Linked DNA regions of Homo sapiens: region 2 is reported to be linked to region 1. The links are microRNA targets in miRTarBase. Many come from high-throughput screens and were not tested one by one. Region 1 holds a microRNA gene; the other region holds the end of a gene's coding sequence.
The links. Region 1 holds the annotated microRNA hsa-miR-6072 (UCCUCAUCACACUGCACCUUAG, at 5,202-5,223, opposite strand). A microRNA usually pairs through its seed, bases 2 to 8, with sites in the 3' UTR of a target mRNA and lowers its output. Matches are read on the target gene's strand: a 7mer-m8 pairs with bases 2 to 8, a 7mer-A1 pairs with bases 2 to 7 and ends in A, and an 8mer does both.

Region 1 (10,074 bases):
GAGGGAGCCTCCTCCTGACCCTGCGGCCGCCCAGAGTGGAGCTGTGTCCTGCTGAGCAGGGCTGGGAGGGCCACACGCCCTTCTTAGCTCTACAGAGACCTGGTAGACTTTCTTGAGGAGACACTTTTCAGTTGCTATATACCTGTAGGATGTTTCCAAAGACTTTAAAGCACACTTTTTAAAAATTCCTTTTACGAGTCATGGTTTGTTTCTCTGGGAAGTGGGTTCACTGCCCTCAAATCACTTTTCCTGATATGACCGCTGTTGATTGTTAGGAAGAGTGGAGGGCTGTGCATTTTTATTACGATTTTCAGAGAAGTTCCCAGATACTATTTTTTTAAATCAACCCTCCTTTTAAGTCTTGGAAACTTTCTAGATATAGAAGATACTAGAGGAAGTTTGAATGTGAAGAATCACATGGTTATGGCTCTGTGGGCAGGGGGTTGTTTTCTTATTTTCGTAATTGCTTTTTTTTTTTTTTTTTTTTTTTTTTGAGATGGAGTCTCGCTCTGTCGCCCACGCTGGAGTGCAGTGGCGCGATCTCGGTTCACTGAAAGCTCCACCTCCCGGGTTCATGCCATTCTCCTGCCTCAGCTTCCTGAGTAGCTGGGACTACAGGCACCCGCCACCATGCCCGGCTAATTTTTTTGTATTTTTAGTAGAGACGGGGTTTCTCCATGTTAGCCAGGATGGTCTCGATCTCCTGACCTCTTGATGCGCCCACCTCAGCCTCCCAAAGCCCTGGGATTACAGATATGAGCCGCTGCACCTGGCCATAATTACTTCTTTAAATAAAATTGGATTCTAAATGAAAATTGAAAGCCGTGGGCTGTGTCTTTCCCTTTCAGTCCTCAGGCTGATTTCCTCACCCCCGGGAGCAATCCCTTAAATGGTGATTGTTTTCATCATTGTTACACAACCGTGATTGTTTAGTCAGCTGTGACTAGAAGATCAATGTATCATTTTTTCTCTGTCTTACTTTCTCTTTCCCAAATGTTTTTGTTATTTTCTTATTTTTAGTTTTATCTTTGTTACCTCTTTAATCATAAATGCTCTTTCATAATCAACTTTTTAATTTCCCTCTCTATGCTTCGTGTTAGACTTAATCACATCATTGCTTTTGTTACCCAAAATGGCGGCATACAGGCAAGTTCCAACCATTCAATGTATGTGTATGATGATTCTAAACACGAAAATTGAATAAGCAATATTAACAGTATTATAGTTATCTGAATGTTATTTGTCACATACGTAACAAATTCTCGTGACACTAAAATGAAAGAAAATTTCTTGTCAAAGTTAAAAATATTTGTGTTCATTACACTCTTTTATTGGATCCAATTGCCCACGTTTAATCTCTCACTTTTGTGCCATGTTTTTATTTTATAGAAGTGGTTTTCACCTGCACTTGTAACTGGCGTTTGAGTATTGTTGGCACACTCACCGGAAGAATGTTCCCCTCCCCTGCCCCAAACCTCACATCTTCATCCTGATTAGATTGAGTTTCAGTTCTGCCAAGGACCACCCTGAATTTATTTTTTCTTGAAAGATGGTTAGAAAGACACTTTTTCTTTGTCTGAAACTGTGTTTATTATTGAGCAATAATTTGGTTTGATATGGGATTTGATCTTAAAAAGTACCTTCCTTTGAAATTGATATGACACTCCATTGCCTTTAAGAACGAAAGTGGTCAAGGCTGGTCTACTTCTGAGGCTTTTGAAGGGAACCCGCTCTTCATTTCTTCCTGGGCAGCTCTTGAGAGCATCCTTCTATCACTGCGTTCCATGGTAGCTCATCCATTCTGGTTGTGTTGCTCCGTGTACCCTTCTGCATGAAAAGTCATCCTTCTTCAGCTTGTAACAGTGCAGCTTTTATTTGAAATAAAAGTTTATCCTCCGTGGCATGGTCTCCACTCTTTCTTTCTGCCCCTCCTATAAAGTGTACATTACCAGTCTTGAATCATTGGCTTTGCCTGAATGAATTGTCTTGCTCACCTGTTTTCTAGATTTGTTGTTGTATTCTAATTATCTGAGTGTTTTTAGATTTGTACTATAAATATCCTATTGGTTTTTTTACATTGTAATAATTATATTTCAAATGACTTGTTTTGTTTTGTTTTTTTGAGATGGAGCTTCGCTCTGTCACCCAGGCTGGAGTGCAGTGTCGTGATCTTGGCTCACTGCAACCTCCGCCCCCCAGGTTCAAGCGATTCTACTGCTTCAGCCTCCTGATTAGCTGGGACTACAAGCGTGTGCCACCACGCCTGGCTAATTTATGATTATACTTCAAATGACAAGACTAATTTTTAAAATCTCTGCATAGTTCCTTTATTAGAACAGCCTATTCTTGTATTGTAATTGGCTTCCCTCAAGTTTTCTATAAGGTGTTTAATGAAAATTAAATGTGCTAATTTTGTATATTTTGTGCTCTTCAGTTCTCCACTGTCTGTACTGATGGCCAGCAGCTTCTGTTGTGATTGTTCCTATTCATGACTTTCTTTCATAGTGCTTCACATGTATGTTCATTGATGTGTATTTGTACGTCAAAATCACATTTTTTTGGTTAATATAAAATGGTGATGTATTTATTTTCCTTTTCTACCCACAGTCTGGTAAATCAGACGTTTATAATCTATAGGGCAGTGTTGGGGAAGCGCTTTGCAGATGGGCTGGGAAGTGAATAGCTAAGCTTCAGTTCAACGTGGCTGCACAGTGGGCTGTTGAATTGGTTGAGACTCCCTCAGGTGCCACACTCAGCTGCATTCCCCCCTGGAAACATCGCCCAGCACAGCAGATCAACTGGAAGATTTGGGATATCATTTGTCTTTGTGCAGGAACTTGGGCTTGAACTTGAGGAAAGAAATTGCATGAGGACCTTACAGGTCATCTGCAAATAGCCATTAATTAATTAATTAATTAACCACCTTGACTCCATACCCACATCTGCCCTCTCTAAATGCCAAACAATAAATTGGGAGCTTTGCCAGGATATCTTCCTCTCACTTTGAATTTGTGTTTGAGACGAGTCCTTTCTTCTGTGATGTATCTATTAGATAAACCTTATCTATTTTCTATCTTATACAAATTTGCCAAAATAGCTCATCTACCAGAGCCCATATTCCTACTCTTAAAACCACAATCATTGCATCCCTTTGGTGTTCTTTATGTTTATTCCAGTCAAATTTGGGAAACAATAGAATTAAATACATATGGTAAATTGTTGTTTTTGACCTGTTGTGTGTTTACTGCCTAAGGCCAGTAGGGACTGTGAAAACAAACAAACAAACAAACAAACAAACAAAACTTATCATGGCAACAACAATCCAATCCTGTATTCTGAACTTGGGTTTCCTGTATCAGGTATCCTATATCCTGAATCTTAATGAATGTTTTCTGTTTATGTTGTCCTTGCTCACATTTCAAAGCTAAGCCTAACCTTGGTCAGTGTGTCCATCGCCTAATATTTTCCCTTTATTTCACTGACAAAGACAATTTAGTAAGACTTATGTCACTAAGCAAATTTCCATTTGTAGACACTGAATTGTTTTTTTTTTTTGTCTTTTTTTAATATACTTTAAGTTTTAGGGTACATGTGCACATTGTGCAGGTTAGTTACATATGTATACATGTGCCATGCTGGTGTGCTGCACCCACTAACTCATCATCTAGCATTAGGTATATCTCCCATTGCTATCCCTCCCCCCTCCCTCCACCCCACAACAGTCCCCAGAGTGTGATATTCCCCTTCCTGACACTGAATTGTTATACAGAAATAACTTATCAAGGAAGATATATGCAGCTTGCATAAAATGTGATTTTTAAAAAGTGTATGATTTTTTGTTTGTTTGTTTTGTTTTGCAGAGACAGGGTCCTGCTATGTTGCCCAGGCTGGTCTCAACCTCTTGGCCTTAAGTAATCCTTCCTGGTTGACTTCTCAAAGTTCTGGGATTATAGGCGTCAGCCACCATGCCTAGTATTGGGTGTCTTTAATTTCAGAGGGTTAGAATTATTCAAATCATAATGATCATACATACCATGGAGATACCCAAACTTTCACAGTTCCTAACCTCTTATCTTCACAGCCTCTCTGGCAATACCCTGAGATAGATAGAAACTGTACCTCTTTCTGTTGTATAAAAGTGGGCACCACCAGCTCTGGGAGTTACATTCCTGCAACTGAGCAGAATCGCCCATCCAGCTCCATTGAGCAGAATCGCCCATCCAGCTCCATTGAGCAGAATCGCCCATCCAGCTCCATTGAGCAGAATTGCCCATCCAGCTCCATTGAGCAGAATTGCCCATCCAGCTCCATTGAGCAGAACCGCCCATCCAGCTCCATCCTGCCACCTGGACACAGTGCAACCTGAGTGTGATATCGCAAACTAACAGCTCTGCACTGGGGCAGTAGGGTCAGCAGTGTGAATTTTATTTAAACTCACAAGATGTAAATATCATACCACGTTCAGAATGGAGCTTTTTGGATGCCTATTCTTCTGTCTCATTTCATAAATTCCTGAAGACAGTGAAAGGCAATGCAGATGGGCTTAATTATTATCTTCTTCTGCCTGAGCATGCTGTGAGAAAAGATTAACGGGAGGGAGAGAAAGAAGAGATAAAATATCCATGACACAAATTAGTATTTAGCATACATTTTGAAATCATGCTGTTTCTGCCAGCTTCATGCGTCTTGCCTCATGCTTCTCAACATACAGCAGACCACGACTCCTAATTTCTAGCTTGATCATATTACTATCTATGTTTCAAGCACATTTTCTCCTAGGTTTCTGATATCTCCAAATGTCTTGCACTATATAATTCTGCAGAGAAAGTATGAAAGTTGATCAGGATAAAACATAGAGAATCCTGTTTTAAAGGAGGGCAAACAGACCCTTGGTACCATTCTCGCCATTGTTCTTGAAGCTTGAGAAATTCTAGGTTGTGTGCTGAGCAGTTACAGGAGCTGTGGTATTAACGAACTGCCACATTAAATAAAAATAGGTTCGTACATTATGCACAATGAGTTGCCATGTTTAGCGTCTATTTCAATACTCATGGAAATAAGTTGAAGCACCTTGTTTAGTGCTATAATTTAAGAACTACTCTATGTAATGCAAACCAAAGATGAAATATGTTCATTTCAGCAGCAGCAAGCATATCTGAATGGAACCATCCTCTCGTTAGTAAGTGACTTCCAGGCAGCAGCTAAGGTGCAGTGTGATGAGGAGCAGTAGCAAAGCCCATCCCTGCACCAGCCCCCACCCTGCACCCCCAATTCCTGCCGCTGAACTTCTTCCTTGAAATTACCCAAGGGGAACGTTTTCCTCTGTGCCCTGCCGAAATTGTGCCCAGTCCTGTGCATCTCCCTAGTGGGTCCAGGACTCAGGACTCTGAACGGGCTGACAAGGGCACCTGGCCTCGGGCCTTGAAGGCAACCCCAGGAGTTCGAGTTTAGAACTCGGGAAGCAGGAACAGCTAAGGGCTACTTTGGAGGGGGCTTGTGTGTCTATGACCCGGCCTGAAGAAACAATGATCAGTGAAAACGTTCTTGGCTCATGACAATCCGTGCTTCCGGCTTTGTCAAGGATGTTCAAATGGAGAAGATGAATCATTGGAAAAATTGTGAAGAGGAAGAAATGAGTGTTCCTTTTGCACCTTCTTTATTGCTTCTGTCCTCCACCAAATATCCCCCAAAACCCTCCACTCAGGGCTCCTTGCACTAATGAGAGAGAACACAGTCTGCGGAAAACATTGTGCAGGGAAAACCCTCGGCATCCAGTATGAGGGACAGACTTCTAGGATGTCCAGCTCCATGTGCCAGGCCCCAGGGCACCCCAGCAATGACATAGGACTTCCACCTTCCCAGGTGCCCGGAGCTTTGGAGATGGTGTTGTCAAGAGCAGTGAGACGCATAGCACAGTCTCCACTGCCCCCATTGTCCCGGAATGAAAACGACACCCGCAACAGTCTGAGCAGCAGGGACACCCTGATCTTCCCGGGACTCGGCTTGCTTTGCAGCCTGGGCCACTGTCTTCTGTACCGCAGTCACTGCATAGCCAGCCCCGCAGGTGCCCCCACTGTATTTCCTAGAGAGAGCTGACTTCAGTCACTTGCCATATCAAGGAGAAAATGGTGAACATAGTGGCCGTCTATTTCATCAAAAGAGCAGGCCTACAGGTTCGTTTATTACTCATCCAACCCAAAGAAGAATCCTCTCTTCCTGGTTATGATCGCAGGCCAACCTCTGCCCAAGTGCCCCTCAAGTGAGGGACACACACAGTTGAATGGGCCCGCACCTGCTCATGGCACAGACTCAGCTGCTCTGTCTCTGTTGTGAGTCCCGGCACATGGGAAAAGCCAGTGGATGTTTAAGTCAATGAAGATCTAGAGAGAGAGAGATCAAACGATTTTGTCTCCTCCACTGACATGAACCATAAAGAAGAACCTTGAATGCATATTTTCCATTGCATAAAAAGGATTGGTACCGTTAAAACTATAAGAAGCTACTTTGAAAAAATGGAGAACTCTGAAACATGAATAACTGGAAACAAAGACGACAGTAACTATATCAAGTCTCTGAATACTGTGACTCACACAGGACCCTAGTGAGACTTTATGCGGTGACTCAGGAGTTTGTGCTGGGAAACTAGTCTATGACATAGAGAAAATTTTTTAATAAAATGAATATTATGAGAGAAAACCTACGAGCCATGAAAGAAAATAGAACCAGCACTTGTCAACTCTCCATAGGAAGTCCAGATGAGAAAGGAATAATAAAGAGGGAGTGATCAAAGACGTCACAAAAGAACATTCTCCTGAAATAAAAATACACTCAGTTTTCCATCTCGAAAGGGATCACTGAGTCTAGGGGAGATTCAAAAAGTAAAAAGATACACACGTGCTAGTAAAGATCTTAAGTTAAAAAATGAAGAATTCAATAAGTTTCCAAATAGAGAAAATAAATTGTCTGCCAGGAAATGACCACATTAGCATCAGACACACTAACTTTGATAACAACAACATCAACCCCACAGTCTTGTGAAGGTTGAATCAGTGTAAAGATTTTAGTTCAATGACTTGTAAACATAAGGTCCTATATACATTTTGTGTTTATTATTATTGAACATAGTTATTGCTACGGGGAGTAAACTCATTTTTGTACCACTATGAGATTGCAGAATTCTACTCTTAGAATTTTAGAATAGGTTAAAGTGTTCTTCATAGTTTTCACAGGACAAAGGACATTTTCAAACAAGTGTGGAATAAGAAACACTTTCAGAAGAGTAGATACTTGTGAAATAAGCGTCTGAAATCTGTCAAATTAAAATCTGAATCGGGAATATAAGTGGAAGAGTGGGGCTAAAGTGACAGGATAAAGAATGTCCATGCGAATGATAAGAGTATCTTCTGGTGCCAGATTTAGAAAAGATTGAAAATGATAATTTAAATCTAAAGAAAGTATTAAGAATGTAGTCCTACATTTTGTAACAAATATTTTATTACAAATTAGCAATGACTTAGAGCTAAAAGTCTGCATAAGTTTAATAGAGTCATGGGTATAGGAGAATAAAAGCTAAAATTTTGTTGAAAGTCTCGTGATGGGTTAGGATGCTGGTCTGAATTATTACATACTTCTTGAATCATGTTTAATTATGTTTTTCTCATAAATGAAAACAGCCAGTAGAAACACTGAAAAAGTAGAAAACATTTATGGAGAAATTTTACAACTCAGAGCAAGGGAAAGAATAATGAAAACACAAAAGAAATGATTAAAAGAAAAATATAGAACACGTTGTGAACAAGACTTAATCTAAAAATGATATGAGTGAAAAATTTGAAAATAAAGGAATAGGAAGATTTATAACATAAGAAAGCATATTATATAAGGATGTGATTATTTCATAATGTGTGTTTCAAAGGCAAAAATGTAAAATTTATAAATATGTTTTTATATCACTAGTTTTCGATACAAAATAAAATGCATTTTATTTCTATATTATTGAAGTCCAATTGAAGCCATTATACTATACATAGTTAAACTGTGTAATTTAATCAGCATCAGATATTTCTATAAAATCAACAACACAGCTGAGATTACAAAGTCTATTATTTATTTATTTATTTAGTACAGACAGGGTCTTGCTGTGTTGCCCAGGCTGGTCTGAAACTCCTGGCCTCGAGCAGTCCTCCTGCCTTGGCCTCCCAAAGTGCTGGGATTACATGCATGAGCCACCATGCCCATACTATTTTATTTTAACATGTAAACTGTTCACACATGTAACTTATTTACATATTTTAATATGTAAATATGCTTAATACTTTAGCCATAAATTTTCTCTGACAAGCTATATATTCTGTCTTCATGTTTCTTAAGCATCATGGGTGTATTAGTTTTCTAGGGTTGCTGTATGAGCCTACCATAAGCCTTCAACAACAGAAATGTGTGTCCTCACAGCTCTGGAGGCTGGACGTCCAGGGTCGAGGTTCGGGCACAGTTGGTTCCTCCTGAGGCCTCTCTCCATGGCTTACGCATGGCCCCCTTCCTTCTGTGTCTTCATGAGGTCTTTCCTCTGTGTGTGTCTGTGTCCTAATCTCATTTTATTGCAAGAATACAAGTCCTATTGGATTAGGGCCCACCCATATGACCTCATTTTAACATAATTATTTTTTTAAATAAAGACCCTACCTCCAAATACAGGCCCATTATGAAGTACAGGGGTTAAGACTTCAAGATGAATTTTTGTAGTTCACAGTTCAGTCCATAATCAGAGTTACTCCAGGTCCCCAAATTCATCTGGTGATCATCCATTTCCACCAGCTGTCAGTCAGCATACCTCATTCATTAACAATTAACTACCGCTAGTACCTAATCACTCACTCATTTCTACCATGTGCTTACTGCTTCAGAAAACGTACTGTTTCACCAAAGGCTATTGAATGTTTGTGAACAACGAAAACACAACAGAGAGAGGTCTATAGTTAGAGGGAACATCTGGAGTCCTGAACACCCTGACTGCAAAGTCAAAGCTGCTTTGTTGCAAAGGCAGGAGGGGGAGGAGGTGGACACGGCTCACCTGGGACACTGTGGCATTTCTTGGTGATTGATTACCTGAAGTCAGAGTCCAAAGTCTCAAGCTCTTTGAAGCTCACAAGTAAAACATGACCTTTAATATCAGCTGTTCCCAGCCCAGAGGGACAGAGTCACAAAGCCCAACTCCTACACTTGTGAGACAACATGGATGTTTATTGTTTATGCTAGTGAGGGCTTGTGGCTCATGACCTTAGTAAAGGGATACAGAGGTTGGGTCTAAAGAACCTAGATCTGACATAACAAGACCCTTTTCTGTGTAGCACTGGCCTTTGGACTGGAGATGGGGATGTGAGAAAATTGTGCACAAATCATTGAAAATTGTTGAGGAAAAATACTGAGAAAATTGTCCCTGGAGGCCAAAAAAATGTGAACCACGTGAGGTGACTGAGAAATGATCACAATTCTCTCACCTGCAAAATACCTGATGAACTTTCAGATGTGACCAACGGGATCTCCAGCCAAAATATTGAAAGTGCCAGCTACCTGATCTCGGCTGTTTATTGGAAGCTTTCAAAAGTAAAAAAGATGAGTGAAATAAAACATTGCCCAGTCTGTACAAGAATTTAGAAGGGATAGAGAGAGCCTGGTCTTGTGGGAATGGAAAATAAAGCCATTTCTGATCTTTCATCTCTTTCCAGCCAGCAAAAGACTCTCAAAATAATCTATAGCCTGGGGGCACGGACAAAATCAGTGGTGTGGCAGCATGACCCTTGGTGAGGGGCTCTGTCAGGTTTGAGGCTGTGCCTAATAGACACTTTCAGCTACACACAAAAAATCTTCAAACAGAAGTCCCCAGAAGCCTGACATAGCCAAAGGAGCACAGATAAGACTAGAGAGAGAAGTCTGTCTAGAAATTAATTATGAGTTTGTCTTTTTTCAGGTGGATTGAAATGGAATCAAATACAAAGAAGTCTGCAGGATTTTCATGGGAGTTGCACAGGCTCTAGGGACAACAGCATGGACTAAAAGGCACTGAAATTACCCCAA
Region 2 (10,074 bases), not on the chromosome of region 1:
CACTGCACTCCAGCCTGGGCGACAAAGTGAGACTCTGTCTCAAAAAAAAAAAAAAGAAAAATCTATTCTAAGTGAAGCAGTTTTTCCCAGTAGGTGGCAGAACTAAATGCCATTATGCCATTTATAATTTTAAGTGATTAAAGAGGAGTAGTATGTAGTATATGCAAGGTCTAGCTCTAACAGCAGTGCAGTATAAATAGTAGAAACTGACCTGATATTACAGTATGAGAAACATGAAGGGGTTCTGTTTTGTGAGCTCTAAATTTATCTTCCATGTATACTTCAAGGCTCTTCTCCCCAGTAGATTTTTATTCATCTGAACTATAATTAGGTGGCCTTTTTCCATTCTGAAAATAATTGGATCAAATGCATTTTAAAGTCCAGGGTCTGAAAGGTGGAGGAATCCTTTCTCTTTACTGTTTCTAATTTAAACTCCTTTTCATTTACTAGATTTCAGTCATGTCCAGAATTCATCTTTTCTAAAAGCTTTAATCTAGATTTAGAAATCTAAAATCTTTTATTTATTTTTTTTTCGTTGAAGTGCCCTGATTTTGTTGGTGGTAAAGACTCCATTAGTATCCACTTATACATTTCCCTGACTTTGCCTCTGACCAAACCTTACAGTATTCACATTGTACTGTTGCAATAATAATAGCTAACATATTAATACGCTGAATATTTGCTGTGTGCCTAAGCTAAGGATTTAATTCTCTTAAAATCCTGTGAGGTATTTTATTTTACAGAAAAAGAAACTGCTTAAAGAAAGTAACTTATCCAGGTCACACAAGTAACAATTGCAGAGCTGGAGTTTCAGATGAGGGCTGGCTTGCGCTGCCGCTACAGAAAAGAGTGCCCTAGAAATCGGTCATCTTGCATTTCCCGATTTTAGTTTAGCCAAATGAAAAATTCCTTTTGGATTTATGAGTATAATCAGACAGTATACCTGTGAAATTAAAGTATTTGACTCTTTGCTTGAAATAAGTAGGTTAAAAAGATTTGGGTGGCCGGGCGCAGTGGCTCACGCCTGTAATCCCAGCACTTTGGGAGGCTGAGGCAAGTAGATCACTTGAGGTCAGGAGTTCGAGACCAGCCTGACCAATATGGGGAAACCTCGTCTCTACTAAAAATACAAAAATTAGCCGGGCGTGGTGGTGCATGCCTGTAATACCAGCTACTTGGAGGCTGAGGCAGGAGAATCACTTGAAGCCAGGAGGCAGAGGTTACAGTGAGCTGAGATCACGCCACTGCACTCCAGCCTGGGCAACAGAGCGCGACTCTGTCTAACAACAAAAAAGATTTGGGAAAACACTTTATTAATGAAGAGTTCCTGACAAAGTGATTTTTTTGGGGAGAATTTTTATAATTGCATTTGAATATTAGGGTGCTCCTTTTTCTCTCATTCTAAATTCACCAGAGACTTAAGCACAGAGAATTTTTATTACATGCCTGTTAATTAATGTGTATAATCAGATTTTAACTATATTTAGTGAATATTAAGATTCAGGTACAAATCAAGCCCTTTATAATTAAACATACACATTCAGAACATTTTTAAAATATTAAAACATTAAACTGCTCTTCTCACCCACTCCAAGTCAAATAGCATTTTTTCAGTCAGGTGTCTGGGAGCTCGATGCAAGATAACAAAATCTGGTCTCTGCCTCAGGGAACATGAAATCTGTTTGGGGAAGCCAGAGCAAAAATAAAGGTTTTAATAGCAAGCTCTCACTAACTGCCCCTGGAAATCCACCCCACATCCTCCAGGAAGCCTTTCTCTACCCCCAGTGCCCTCAGGAGCTTCTCCAAGGCAGGCCCTTCCCAGAGCGCAGTGTGCTCCCCAGCTCACAGAAGATGCTCCCTACACGCTGCAGGAAAGTCCAGTGCCTGCAGCACAGGCTTCAGCAGCAGACTCGGGTTCTAGTCTCAGTCTGCTGATTCCTAGTTGTGGAACCTGAGCAGGCGAAGTTACTAAACCTCTCTGTGCGTCAGCCTCCCAGGCTCGTTGCTTCAGGCCGCAGTTAGGCTGTGTGAACAGGAGAGTGGGGATGGGAACTAGGTATCTTAAAGCGGGGCAGAGTTTGGATGAGCGGGCCACCCTTCGTATAGTTAGGAGGAAGATGACGGGAGGCATGGAAGCTGGGATAGCCATCCTGAGTCAGTGCTAATTCTGACACTTCAGAACATCGAGTCAGTCTGACCTGCGAGTGAGCTTTCATTGACCACTTAGAAACTATTAGCACCTTGGACAAACTACTTTCTTTCAGACCTGGTTGCTTCATGTCTGCGATGGGAAAACTGATACTTAACTTGCAGATAGTGGTGAATCAAAAGTAGTATATGTGAAGTACTCACACACTGCGGAGCATTCAGCCATCGTCCCATCCTACTTCTACCTTTTACATATTGTAATATGAAAGCTAAACCATTTCTCGATGTGAGTCAGTTTTAATCGGCTACATAGTGAGTGGCATTCGATTTTAAAAATGTCAACTTGGGATCTGTCACCATGCTACTTACCATTTGTATGTCACACTGTTTGAATGTCGGACCTGGTTTGTTTTTCTCCAGATGGTATGTTACTTACGGTCATGAACTGATTTGGAAGAACAGGGAGCCGCTAGTGAAAATCTGGCATGAAATAAGGACTAATGGCCCCAAAAAAGGAGGTGGCTCTAAGTAAAACTGGGATTGGACAGTAGTGGTGCATCTGGTCCTTGCCGCCTGAGAGCCCCAGGAGACATCGGCTAGAGTGACCATGGCTATGCTCCCGTCTGGAAGATGCCAGCATCTGGCCTCCCACTGTTTTCAGCTGTGTCCCCCAGTCCGTGTCTTTTTAGAATGTGAATGATGATAAAGTTGTGAAATAAAGGTTTCTATCTAGTTTGTAAGCAGATGTGTGTGTTCTCTCTTTAAGGGGCCGACACGGCTCTGGCATTTTGCTTTGGTTGTTGCATTGACAGGACCTGGGGAGAGTGCACCCTGAAAGGCCTGATCAGAACATGAAGGCGCTGGTTGCCTGTCTTTGGACCCTCCAGTGCCTCTGCTTAGCCTTCACTCTTCCTTGCCTCCCCCTCCCCTGGGTTGGCTGCACATAAAAGTCGAGAGTATCCCCTCTCCAGCACAATCTGAAATAACAGCTGCAGTATTTTCTCAATTTTCAGGAAAGGTAGTGTTTTCTGGCAGTGAGTGGCATATACAAAAAGCTATTTTCAGGTTTTGCTTTCTAGGTTCAATTTGTAGATAAATTAAGAGGTAGAAAGAAGTGATTTGGGTAAATTCAGACTTGAATCTGAGCCGAATTTTATCTTCTGTTTGAAAGTGTTCTAATTGAAGCGTCTCACTGAAATAGCAGATAGTGGCTGTCGTCGTCACAGCCTCACTGTTGTGGAATTCATGTTACCCTCGTGACTGAGAATGACATCTAGGAAATGCAGTTTGAGAGTATGTTCTTCTTGAAGTCATTTACAGGAGAATTTTTAGTCTTTTGATGGCTTCAAAATGTTATACCAAGTCTTGCAGCTTTGTCCTGGGAGGATCGAAGGCCCTGATTTCAGCCTCCTGTGGCCGATCGGACTCAGGTTGTGTGCCGTGGGGGATGGGAATGGCGGCTTTGGAAAAGGAGTGGGAGTGGTGCCCACCTCACCAGGCAAGTGAGAACTGCATGGCAGCACGCGCCCAGCACATAGAAATTGTCCAGTATTTGGCAGTCCTTCATATCCTTCTTCCATCAGGCTGGACTTGTTTCTACTATGATTTACAGTTATTCTTCCCAGGCACAGGATTCTGTTCTAAACTCGTATCACTTCTAGGGGAGAGAGTTATCTTAGCCATCATTTTGCCAGCGAGGAAACGGCACACGTGGTGTAGGGGCACTGCCCAAGGTCACAATGCTTTGCTCTGACATCTGCTAACAACTCTGCAACACAGATGAGGCAAGATGCGTTTTCCAGAGATGGGATAGGAGGCTGAGTTCATAGGGACATTCCCTCTAGAGCCCAACATTAATTCACATCGTGCTTTGGGCAGACCAGGCAAAGAGGCAATGAAGACATCTCTGTGTCCCTGCTTTGTGACTGGGAAAAAGTTAGAAGTCCCTGTAGCATCTCCTGGTCCCTAAAACCCCTCAATGCTGGAGCCTCTGTGCATGGCCTGGGGAGGCCAGAACCTGGCTGTGGCCGGAGAAGCCTTGCTGTCCACAGCTCCCTCCTGATTGCCCACGAGGGTGCTTCACTTTCTCCTCTTGGCTTCTCTGGGGACCCGCGATCACTGCCTTCAAGGCCATGCACTCCCTGGCCCGTGGGCCTCTTGGGCTGTGCCGCCTCCACTGGCATCTGAAGTGTGGGGTACCTAGGAACATGCCGTGGCTGCCGTCTCCCTCATTCCATACACTTCTTGAGTGGGTGCACTTGCTGAAGCCTCAGTTATCTGTGAGGATTCTGAGCTCCAGACCCACAGAATCTCTCTGTACTCTTAGTAAATGTGTCTACTGCAACACACGCATGGTTCCAGGCTCTGGGACCACCCCCCCGCCCTGCACAGGCCCCTCAAATAGCACTCGGCTTAAGGAGTGACACGAGCAATCGGTGAAGTCTGAAACCCGGAGCCATTCGAGATCTCCCTCTCTCGCCTCTTATTTCTAGAATTCAGCCCCTCAGCCTTCCCAGTGCCTGTGACTCCGTGGTGGTCCTCACTTCTTAGTCCCTGGACTGTTGAGCCTGTTCTTCCAGCTGGTCTCCAAAGCAACCCTGTGCTTCTCCATATGCCTGCCAGAGTGCTAAAAACATGTCTGTCATTCCTTTGTTGTCACCTGTGAAAAACTTTTATTTATTTGAGACAGGGTCTCTCTCTCTCTCTCTCGTCCAGGCTGGAGTTCAGTGGTGCAATCATAGCTCACTGTAGCCTTGAAGTCCTGGGCTCAAGCCTCAGCCTCCAAGTAGCTGGCACTGCAGGCACACACTACCACGCCTGGCTAATTTTTAAAAGTTTTTTGTAGAGACAGGGTCTCACTGTGTTGCCCAGGCAGTTCTCAAACTCCTGGGCTCAAGCAGTCCTCTTGCCTCAGCCTCCCAAAGTGCTGGGATTCCACGCATGAGCCATCTGCACCCGGCCATATGAAAAGCTAAAATTCCTTAGTGTGGCCACCAAGACCCTCCATGGTCTGCTACCTCAGCTGAACCCTCCTCCCCCGTGACCTACATTCCCACCTGGCCCAACCACCCTCCCTCACAACAGGTGGCGAGTCCAGCTTTCCCCAGCCTGCCTCCCTCTCATGCTGACCTGGCCTTGTCAGTTCAATTACACTTCCTTCCGTCCCTCACTACCACACTAAACCTCCTGAAGGCACCCAGAATTATTCCTAGCACATAGCAACTGCTCTTTGACTGTTGTTTGATCAATGAAGTAATAAAAAGAGAGCTGCTCTCTTTTCCTGCGAGATGGAGAATTTTAGTCCCAAGCGCCATCTGCCAGGCTGGCTAACCCAGGGCCGTGGCGGACAGTCCACAAAGAGTTCACTCTGACCCGGCCCCTGTGTGTCATTTTCCAGGATCTCCCTCTACACCTGGCGCCTCGCCTGCTGCCTGCTGGGACATGGCCTGGCCTGCTCAGCTGACCTGCTGCCACTTCTAGGCAGCCGTCATGTCACTTTGCTACAACTTCAAGCTAAGACAGGCAATGTTTTGGGAGATGAATCTGTTTTCTGACTGGCCAGGGATGTGCTGCAGTCCCCTCCCAGGCGCAGACTGGATACCTTCCAAGTACAACCTTGAAATGGAGCTCTGGGTAATTAATGCTGTCTCAGTAGTGTTATTAGTAATTGGTCTGCAGTGTATACCGAGAGCATGTGTCAAATATTCAGAAAAGCGTTTGTGGGTGGTCAGGGAGTTGTTTGAGACGGTGTCCTGCATTGAACAGACCTGCCTTTACGCTGGAGGATCCCTCAACAGCTCTGCCTGAAAACAGCCATGCATGCACAGGAGGAAAGGAACTTGATAGCCTTGTGGCCAGTTCTGTGGCCGCTTTATCAAACTAAAGCTTTTGCAAATGGCCATGCTTTAAAATTAGGAATTTCAGAACCCAGGGAAAGGTCGATTGGTGGCTAATGCCAATTCTAATGAAAAGTGGATTGGTTGTCACAAATGTAGACTAGCATCCTAAAGGCAAATAGGCGGCGACTCACAGGCTGACTGAAACACGTGTTCTCCGGGAAGCAGGGCCCCGAGTCTTCTCTGACACCCTCATTGCTGCACCTGCCCCTGTGCCCGCGGAGTCCATGCGGTGCAGCCTGGCACAAATGCAGCAGTCGCTGGGCGTCCCGAGGCCACATGGAGAACCTCCCGGCTGGCGGACTGCTCCCAGCTGCGACCATCGGGCCCTTGGCCTCTGCGAAGCCGGGGCCATTTATAAGATGACACTGAGGGAACTTTGGATTCAATTCTGAGGCATTCTTCGAGATGGACACTTGTAAATGAATGCAGGCGGTTTCCGGTGCCCCCTGGCGACGGTGCAGCCTTTCCCCCATCCGCGCTCCCTCCAGCTCCAGCCGTGCGCAGCCGGCCCCGGCCAAGTGGGGCTGCCGCCGAGTGCGCCCCCTCCCGGGACGCCCACCCTCGTGCCGGGGGGCGGTGCTGCGGCGGCGCGGGGCGGGCCGCGGGGGCGGGGACGCTGGGCGCAGGAGGCGCGGCCGGGAGCGCCGCGCGCCGGGAGCGGGGCGGCGGGCGCCGGGGCTGGCATGGCGTGGCCCTGTATCAGCCGCCTGTGCTGCCTGGCGCGGCGCTGGAACCAGCTGGACCGCTCCGACGTGGCGGTGCCGCTCACTCTGCACGGCTACTCGGACCTCGACAGCGAGGAGCCGGGCACGGGCGGCGCCGCCTCGCGCAGGGGCCAGCCTCCCGCGGGCGCCCGGGATTCCGGCCGGGACGTGCCGCTCACTCAGTACCAGCGGGACTTCGGCTTGTGGACCACGCCCGCCGGGCCCAAGGATCCGCCGCCGGGGCGCGGACCGGGGGCGGGCGGCCGCAGGGGCAAATCCTCCGCGCAGTCCTCCGCGCCACCTGCGCCCGGCGCCCGCGGGGTCTACGTGCTGCCCATCGGCGACGCGGACGCGGCTGCAGCAGTGACCACGTCGTACAGGTATGGGCTGGGTAGGGACCGCAACGAGTCCCCACCCTGTGGTGGGAGGACGCGGAGGCCCGGAGCCAGAGGGATGGGGTGGGCGGCAGAGCGGAGGCGCCTGGAGCCCGGATCCCACGCGACCTCGGAGCTGCCGGCGGCCTCAGAGGTCACCCCCGTTTGGTCCGTGGGCACTGCAGGCGGCGCCTTCGCTGCTCCATGCCCGGACTCAGTGCTCGAGCACCCCCGTGCCGGGAGCGCACCGCTGCCCTCGCAGCCGCCCTCCTGGGGGCAGCCGTCAGAATGGCCTGCCTTCAGCCGAGTTGGAACCGGCCTCCCTTTAACTCCCACCGCCGGGCCTAGCCGTGCGAGGGGTGCGCGCAGGCCATGTCCCCCAGCTCTCTCCGGTCACTGCCTAGTGTGCGGGCGTTGGTGGTGAGGACCGAGCGCAGGGTCCCGTGTGGGTGAGCCCTTCAGAGTCCCACTGTGACAGGGGCTTTCAGGGAGAACGGGTCCGCGGGCCCTCCCCACCTCCCAGCCCAGCTCTGCTCCTGGACAGCCGAGGGCTTTCTCCCTTTTTTCCTCTTACCACAAAAGTAATTCATACTGTAGAAAAATGGGAAAGTACAGAAATTACAACAAAATACGTATCTCCTTGATCCCTCCCCAGACGAGTTCTTTCTACTCCGTAATGTGCATTTGGTGCATATGCACTGATATATTTTTACGTGGTTAGATTCTTACTGTACACTTTTTTCACCAGTTGTAGAAGTCTGTCCGTGTTACTACATGTTCTGCAACATGAATTTTAATAAACGTGCAGTATTTTATCCTATGGATATGCCTTTATATCTTCAAGTTTTATTTATCTACTTCCTTACCATTGACTATTTAGGGTGTTTCTAATGTGGGACTATTAAAAGCACTACTTTTCCTTTGATGCAGCTATTTCACTACTAGGAATTTTCCCTACAGGTATCCTACAAGGTAGGGTGGGAGCTCAGGAGCGTAAGATAGGTGGAGACATTGTACAACAAACCCCTTGTCCTGCTGATGTAGGGAACTGGTTAATTATAGCACAGCCATGAAATGGGATACTGAAACCCAGCGGATCTTAAATATACGCATACCAAAAAAGCAAGGTGCCCAGCAGCACGTAGGCTATTTGTGTTTTAAAAAGGGGTATTAATATACACACATATGCTCAAATAAGCACAGGATGCCCTGATGGATGTCTGAGGAGATGGTACCGTTAGGGAGAGGAACTTGATAGGGACTGCCAGGGGTGGAAGGCTTTTCACTCTGCTCTTTTGAACGATTGCTTTTTTTGCCTTTGTAACATGTCCATGTATTGCCTATCTTTTTAACTTTTTTTTTTGGAGACGGAGTCTCGCTCTGTCACCCAGGCTGGAGTGCAGTGGTGCAATCTCGGCTCACTGCAATGTCTGCCTCCCTGGTTCCAGCAATTCTCCTGCCTCAGCCTCCCGAGTAGCTGGGATTACAGGCTTGTGCCACCATGCCCAGTTAATTTTTATTTTTATTTTTATTTTTGATTTTTTTCTTTTTTGAGACAGAGTCTCGCTCTGTCGCTCAGGCTGGAGAGCAGTGGCGCCATCTTGGCTCACTGTAACCTCCGCCTCCTAGGTTCAAGCAATTCTTCTGCCTCAGCTTCCTGAGTAGCTGGGATTATAGGTGTGTGCCATCACGCCCAGCTAATTTTTTGTATTTTTAGTAGAGATGGGGTTTCACCATGTTGGTCAGGCAGGTCTTGAACTCCTGACCTCATGATCCGCCTGCCTCGGCCTCCCAAAGTGCTGGGATTACAGGCATGAGCCACCATGCCCGGATGAGGGACTCCTTCTAAAAGCTAAGCCAGCCAGGCATGGTGGCTCACACCTGTAATCCCAGCACTTTGGGAAGCTTAGGTGGGAGGATCACTTGAGCCCAGGAGTTCAAGACCAGCCTGGGCAACATAGTGAGACCCTGCCTCTACAAAAAATAGAAAATTAGCTGGGCGTGGTGGTGCCTGCCTGTGATTCCAGCTACTTGGGAGGCTGAGGTGGGAGGATCCCTCAAGCCTGCGAGGTCGAGGCTGCAGTGAGCAGTGTTTGTGCCACTGCACTCCACCTAGGCAACAGAGCAAGACCTTGCTTCAAATAAATAAAAGCTAAGCCTCTGCTAGAACATCCCTAGTAAAGAGGAGCCCAGCGCCATGCAAGTCAGCTCGCTCCATGGGCAGACTGTTGTAACTGACAGAAAGCGCTTCCTTCCCGGAGCTGAAGCTGTCTCCCTGCAAGCTCCACCCCTTGCCCTGCTCTGGTGCCTAGAACTTCAGCCGCTGGAATGCGCTGCACGCTCAGGACCCCTGGCCTTCCAGACTCTCCGCTATTCAGGCCCCTCCAGCTGGCTAGTCTAGGGCCTGAGCGCTGCGGCTCAGTGTTGCCCACTCCAGCTTTGGCGGCTCAGCTTGAGGACGTGTCAGTGAATGCAAGACCCACCCTGCAACCACTGTCCCCCAGCGAGTTCCTTACAAAGTGCCGACCTATGAGGGAGCCTCCTCCTGGGGACATGGAATGTTCTTTGTGTCTTGATAATGGTGGTGGTACCCAAGTGGTTACATTTGTCAAAAGTCATCCAGCTGTATGTTTTTAATGGATGAATTGTATGGTTTGGAAATAATGCCTTGATACAGTTGGGTTTTTGGGGGGTTTTTTTGTTGTTGTTTGTTTTGTTGTTGTTGCTGCTGTTGCCCAGGCTGGAGTGCAGGGACATGATCTCAGTTCACTGCAGCCTCAACCTCCCAGGCTCAAGTGATTTTCTCACCTCAGCCTCCCGAGTAGCTGAGACCACAGGTGGGCACTACATGTGGGGTTTTGTGTGTGTGTGTGTGTGTGTGTGTGTGTGTGTGTGTGTGTGTGTGTGTGTGTTTTAGAGATGGGGTTTATGTTGCCCAGGCTGGTCTCA

Region 2: the mRNA of PARL is a reported target of hsa-miR-6072. The part of its 3' UTR that is shown has no 7-base or 8-base seed match.

The regions. Positions count from the first base shown.
Region 1 is chr10:2,070,830-2,080,903 of GRCh38, forward strand. MIR6072 (microRNA 6072) reads right to left here and starts at 5,260; the gene lies at 5,190-5,260. RefSeq lists an enhancer at 1-465.
Region 2 is chr3:183,822,204-183,832,277 of GRCh38, reverse strand. PARL (presenilin associated rhomboid like) reads left to right here. Exons shown (of 10, transcript NM_018622.7): 10 at 2,569-3,007. The coding sequence ends at 2,680. MAP6D1 (MAP6 domain containing 1) reads left to right here and starts at 6,701. Exons shown (of 3, transcript NM_024871.4): 1 at 6,701-7,131. The coding sequence starts at 6,731. RefSeq lists silencers at 6,494-6,843, 6,904-6,973, 6,994-7,123.